2 separate regions of the Homo sapiens genome follow, and region 1 is linked to region 2. The links come from fine-mapping of genetic effects on gene expression. A gene starts in region 2. The other region holds a variant in brackets. All regions are shown on one strand. Distances are from middle to middle. Region 1 has its middle 6.0 kb from the start of DOC2A. Region 2 holds the start of INO80E (INO80 complex subunit E).

Evidence for each region. PIP is the estimated chance that this variant, and not a neighbour inherited with it, causes the effect.
Region 1: its variant is the best candidate, but not a certain one, in a credible set for the expression of INO80E in whole blood (TOPMed, PIP 0.76).

What each region holds. Positions count from the first base shown.
Region 1 is chr16:30,015,570-30,018,475 of GRCh38, reverse strand. It overlaps a transcript of DOC2A not described here. Among named protein-coding and RNA genes, the nearest start is that of DOC2A, 6.0 kb to the right of the region's middle. The variant A/G (reference allele first, on the strand shown) is at 1,575.
Region 2 is chr16:29,994,786-29,997,635 of GRCh38, reverse strand. It overlaps INO80E (INO80 complex subunit E), which reads right to left and starts at 1,395. Exons shown (of 7, transcript NM_173618.3): 1 at 1,245-1,395; 2 at 1,019-1,089; 3 at 776-828. The coding sequence starts at 1,325. It overlaps HIRIP3 (HIRA interacting protein 3), which reads left to right and starts at 2,019. Exons shown (of 7, transcript NM_003609.5): 1 at 2,019-2,095; 2 at 2,173-2,293; 3 at 2,419-2,533; 4 at 2,793-2,850. The coding sequence starts at 2,031. RefSeq lists enhancers at 1,312-1,441, 1,502-1,671.

The DNA of each region.
Region 1 (2,906 bases), 21 kb before region 2:
GGGGGCTCATGCCTGTAATCCGAGAAATTTGGGAAGCCGAGGTGGGAGGATCACTGGAGGCCAGGAGTTCAAGGTTGAAGTGAGCCATGATCGTGCTGCTACACTCCAAGCTGGGTGACAGAGAATCCCATCTGTAAAAGATAAGAATAAAAAGATCTGTTGGTTCAATTTTCTTTCTTTCTTTTTTTTTTTTTTTGAGACAGCATCTCACTCTGTTGCCCAGGCTGGAGTGCAGTGGTGCAATCATAGCTCACTGCAGCATCGACCTCCCAGGCTCAAGCAATCCTCTCTCCTCAGCCTCCCAAGTAGCTGGGACTGCATCATCAAGTCATCATGCCCAGCTAAGTTTTTTTTTTTTTTTTTTTTTTTTTTGGTAGAAATAGGATTTCACTATGTTGCCCAGGCTGGTCTTGAACTCCGGGGCTCAAGGGATCCTCCTGCCTTGGCCTCCCAAAGTGCTGGGATTACAGCGCCCAGCCTCAATTTTCTTTTCTTTCTTTTTTTTTTTTTTTTCCGGAGACAGAGTCCCACTCTGTTGCCCAGGCTGGAGTGCAGTGGCACGATCTCAGCTCATTGCAACCTCCACCTCCCAGGTTCAAGTGATTCTTGTGCCTCAGCCTCCTGAGTAGCTGGGATTACAGACGCATGCCACCAAGCCCACTTAATTATTTTTGTATTTTTAGTAGAGATGGGGTTTCGCCATGTTGGCCAGGCTGGTCTCAAACTCCTGGCCTCAAGCAATCCGCCCACCTTGGCCTCCCAAAGTGCTGGGATTACAGGCATGAGCCACCGCACCCGGCAATAGGTAGTTTTTCGACTCTTTCCCTCCCTCCCCTTTTTTGGAGTCCCCAGTGTCTGTTATTCTCATCTTTATGTCCATAGGTACCCAATGTTTAGCTCCCACTTACGAGAACATGTGGTATTTGATTTTCTGTTTCCGCATTAATTCAGTTAGGATAATGGCCTCCAGCTGCATCCATGTTGCTGCAAGGGATATAATTTCATTCTTTTTTATGGCTGCATAGTATTCCATGGCATATACATATCACATTTTCTTTATCCAGTCCACTGTTGGTGGGCACCTAGATTGATTCTGTGTCTTTCCTATTGTGAACAGTGCTGCAATAAACACACAAGTGCAGGTGTCTTTTTGGTGGAATGATTTCTTTCTTTCTTTTTCTCTTTTTTTTTTTTTTTGAGACAGGGTCTCACTCTGTCACTCAGGCTGGAGTACAGTGGCTTGATCTTGGCTCACTGCAGCCTCAAACTCCTGGGCTCAAGCGATCATCCTGCCTCAGCCTCCCGAGTAGCTGGGACTACAAGTGCACACCACCACTCCTGGCTAATTTTTTTTTTTAGACAGGGTTTCGTCATGTTGACCAGGCTGGTAGAATGATTTCTTTTCTGAATATGCCGTACTCTGGACTGCCTCCCAGCTTTGGCACACACCTCTGCCTAGAATACACTTGCCCCCAAGCTTGACCTGGGTAACTCCTCCTCATCTTTCAGGTCTCAGTTGAGACAACTCCTTTTCTGGGAAGTGAGGTGTTAATCTTTGTTCCCTCCTACCTCAT[A/G]GGACCCTGAGTTCCCATGGCTTCTGACCATCCCCTGTCCCCACGTCAGTTTCCCTGGATGGGGATTGTCTGTGTATTTGTCTGTCTTCCCTATGAGGCTGTGAAGTCACAGCTCATTGACCTTGGGCCTGGTTGTATCCCCACAATCTATAGTCGATATTCAGTCAATATTTACTGAATGACTGGGTGACTGGTGCAAAAGCCTCCCGTCTCTGGACAAAGCAGGGCTCAGCACTGTCCATCATTTTCCTCTGAAATTGGCTTGAACTCCAGCCTCATCCTTACCTGTCTTCAACAAGTTCTTCTGGAGGCAGGCAGGGCTGGGGTTGAGCAAGCACCGTGGGAAGAGAGCACAGGAGAGAGGACTCGACAGGTTCCTTGACCAGAGTGTCCCCCTCCCCTCACTGCAGGCCCCCTGCGCCCAGGTCATGGACACCCTCTTGCTAAACTCACCGGCTTTCACACTGCACTGTGTCTCCCTTCGTCCTGCTTCCTTTCTTATTCTGGAGAGCCACGAAGGAAACCTAACGGTTGCCTTTACTTTAGAAATATTGGCCGGGTGCAGTGGCTCATGCCTGTAATCCCAGCACTTTGGGAGGCCAAGGCAGGCAGATCACTTGAGGTCAGGAGTTCGAGACCAGCCTGGCCAACATGGTGAAACCCTATCTCCACTAAAAATACAACAATTAGCCAGGCATGGTGGTGTGCACCTGTAATCCCAGCTACTTGGGAGGCTGAGGCTTGAACCTGGGAGGTGGAGGTTGCAGTGAGCCAAGATCGTGCCACTGCATTCCAGCCTGGGCAACAGAGCGAGACTCTGTCTAAAAAAAAAAAAAAAAAAAAAAATATATATATATATATATATATATATATATATATATTATTGTGCTGGGCATGGTCTTTGGCTCACACCTGTAATCCCAGCACTTTGGGAGGCCAAGGTAGGAGGATGGCTTGAGGCCAGGAGTTTGAAACCAGCCTGGGCACCATAGTAAGACCCATCTCTACAAAACAAACAAACAAACAAAAACAGATTAGCCAGGCATGGTGGTGCATACCTATAGTCCCAGCTACATGGGAGGCTAAAGTGGGAGGATCGCCTGAGCCCAAGAGTTCGAGGATGTCGTGAGCTATGATCTTGCCACTGCACTCCAGCCTAGGCAACACAGTGAGACCCTGTCTCAAAAAAAAAAAAAAAAAGAAAAAGGAAGGAAAGAAGGAAGGAAGAAAGGAAGGAAGGAAGGAAGGAAAGAAGAAAAGAAAGAAAAAGACAAGACCAAAATTTGGCCAGGCACAGTGGCTCATGCCTGTAATCTCAGCACTTTGGGAGGC
Region 2 (2,850 bases):
ATTACAGGTGCACGCCACCACACCCGACTAATTTTTGTATCTTTAGTAGAGACGAGGTTTCACCATGTTGGTCAGGCTGGTCTTGAACTCCCGACCTTGTGATCCGCCCACCTCGGCCTCCCAAAGTGTTGGGATTACAGGCGTGGGCCACTGCACCTGGCCAAGAATGGCTTTTAAGCTTTTAAACGGTTGGAAAAAAAAAAAACTAAAGAAAAATTTTTCATATGGAAAAATATGAAATTCAAATTTCAGTGCCTATAAAGTTTTATAGAAACATAGCCATACTCATGTATTTGCCTATGGGGTACGGCTGCTACTACAATGGCAGAGTTCAGTAGGTGCTTCAAAGATTGTATGTTGCAAAAAGCTTACTTACCATCTGGCCCTTTGCAGAAACAATTCATCAACCCCTGTTCTACTATAATCATTACCGCATAACTGTTTTCATTACCTTCAAGTCCTTCCTATGACCTAAAATTCTAGTCTATTGTCTTCATTTACTTATTCTTCCCAACTAGAATATAAATTACAAGAGGCCAAGGGCTTTGCCTATCTCTGCCTCTGCTGTATCCCCTGTGCCAAGCACAGTGCCTGAAACACAATAGGTGCTCAGTAAGTGCCTGAATGAAAGAACGGTGGAGGTGGAAGGCAAGCAACTAGGCTTAAGGACCACTGGGGGCTGCATCAGCCACCACTGCCTAAAAGGCGGGGGCCCAGGAAGCTTGCTAAGTACCAGGAACCATGCTCTCCACCAATTTTTGAAGACCTTGCTCACCCGAAGAGTCTTCATCCACGTTCTCGTACTGCAGAAGTCGGTCTAGGAGGAAACTGAGGGGAGGGAAGGAGACACGGACAGTGATTTTCCAGCGCAGCAATGTCCTCCTGGGTACCTGTCCCTCCCAGCTGGCCCATCGGATACTTGAAAGAGCCCATGCACTTGTGGCCCTACTCGGGGATGGGGTCCGAATGTAGATTTCCTAGGAAGCACATCGCCCTCCGCCCCTGCAACGTGCCTCACCTCTTGTCCCGGGACACCTTCAGTAATTTCCTTTGCGCTTTCCTCAGCTCCTCCTGGAAGCACTCGTGCTCCTGTATCACGGGCAAGGGGTGCGCTGGGCCAACGGTCCTCCGTGAAGGGCCCCGGAACCAGCGGCCGCTCGCCCCACCCACTTTACACCTGGGTAAACTGAGATCTTGTCCGCGCCAGGCCTCATCCCCCACAGCCTTCCCGCGGCAGCACTCACGTAGATGAGGAACTTGAGCTTCCGCTTCAGATTCCGGTATTTTTTTTTGTAGTCCACTTCGCCGTCCGCCGGCCCGTTCATGACCGGCCCGGGAGTGGCGCCCAGAGTCTGCCCTCCCGCTACCCCAAGCAGTGGCTGCCGTGCCGCTCCCGCCTCCACTTCCGGAGACGCTGCAAGGCTGTGCCGTCAGGACTACAACTCCCGGCGTACCCCGCGCTCAGGGGCGTCACCGCACGGGCCGACCTCCCGGGGGACACTGGGACAGGAGCGCGGCAGCCACTGCGCTGGGGATGGCGTAGCAGCGACGCGGTGACGCCACAAAAATGGCGGACGCTGGAAAGCGCCGTTCCTGACTCTAATGTACTTAGACACTTGAAGCCACAAAAGGATTTATCCCCGAGGTTCCTCATCTGCTCGCGAGGATGCCTTTTCTCTTCTGCCTTGCGAAATAACAGCAGCCTAGCTGTTGCCCGTGACCAGTGAGAAAGGCAGCGTCGCGGGCTGATTAGGTTTCACCCAAAGGGTGCCGGCGCCGAATTGGTTTCTAACGAGAACTTTTAAAATGATCCGTTCCAAAAAAGGGTAGGAGCCGCGAGACCCTCCAACTGCCCAGAGAAAACAAGTCTCGTCTGGCAAAGTTCTCGGCCCACGCGGTCCGCGGCCAAGGGCCAACGGTCCCTCGCCCCACGTTGCCGCAGCACTGCGCGTGCGCGAGCCGCTGTCAAACGCGCTGACGGAGGCCGAGAAGAAAAAAAGGCGGGAGCCGTCAATCCCGGGTTGAGCAAAATGGCGCGGGAGAAGGAGATGCAGGAGTTCACCCGTAGCTTCTTCCGAGGCCGCCCGGACCTCAGGTGCCCAGGGGGTTGGAGATGGGGTTGGAAAGGGCGCGGGTGGGTCGGGACTCCGTCCTGACACCATGTCCCTGCAGCACGCTTACGCATTCCATCGTGCGGCGGAGGTACTTAGCTCACTCGGGCCGCAGCCACCTGGAGCCCGAGGAGAAGCAGGCACTGAAGCGGCTGGTGGAGGAGGAGCTGCTGAAGATGCAGGTGTGCCGGGCCGGAGCCTGGGCCGCGGGAGGCGGAGGCGGGGCTTGCTGCTGAGGAGGAGGGGCCTGACGGGGCGCGGTGAGCGCAGCCTTGGTGCATAGTTTGCCCTCTTGGCGCACACACAGGTGGATGAAGCCGCTTCCAGGGAAGACAAACTGGACCTTACCAAGAAGGGCAAGAGGCCTCCCACCCCTTGTAGCGACCCGGAGAGAAAAAGGTTCCGCTTCAATTCAGAGTCGGGTTAGTGCTTCCTCCCTGCTGTGGGGGCCTTCTGCATCGTTGGTTCACTCAAGAAGCATTCACTGCGCATCTCTTATGTCCCCAGGCGTTAGATGAGGGAGCAAGGCTAGTGAGTCAGGAACCGGGAACAGCAAGTACAGATAGCTGTTTCCTGCTGCCCCTCCAACTGTCAGGGCAGGGCTCGAGGCAACCTATCCGAAGTGAAGGGAGAAGGGACAGGAGGAGCCTGTCTCAACCCTCTCTCCTCTCCATATTCCAGAGTCCGGCTCTGAAGCCTCCAGCCCAGACTACTTTGGACCCCCAGCAAAGAATGGGGT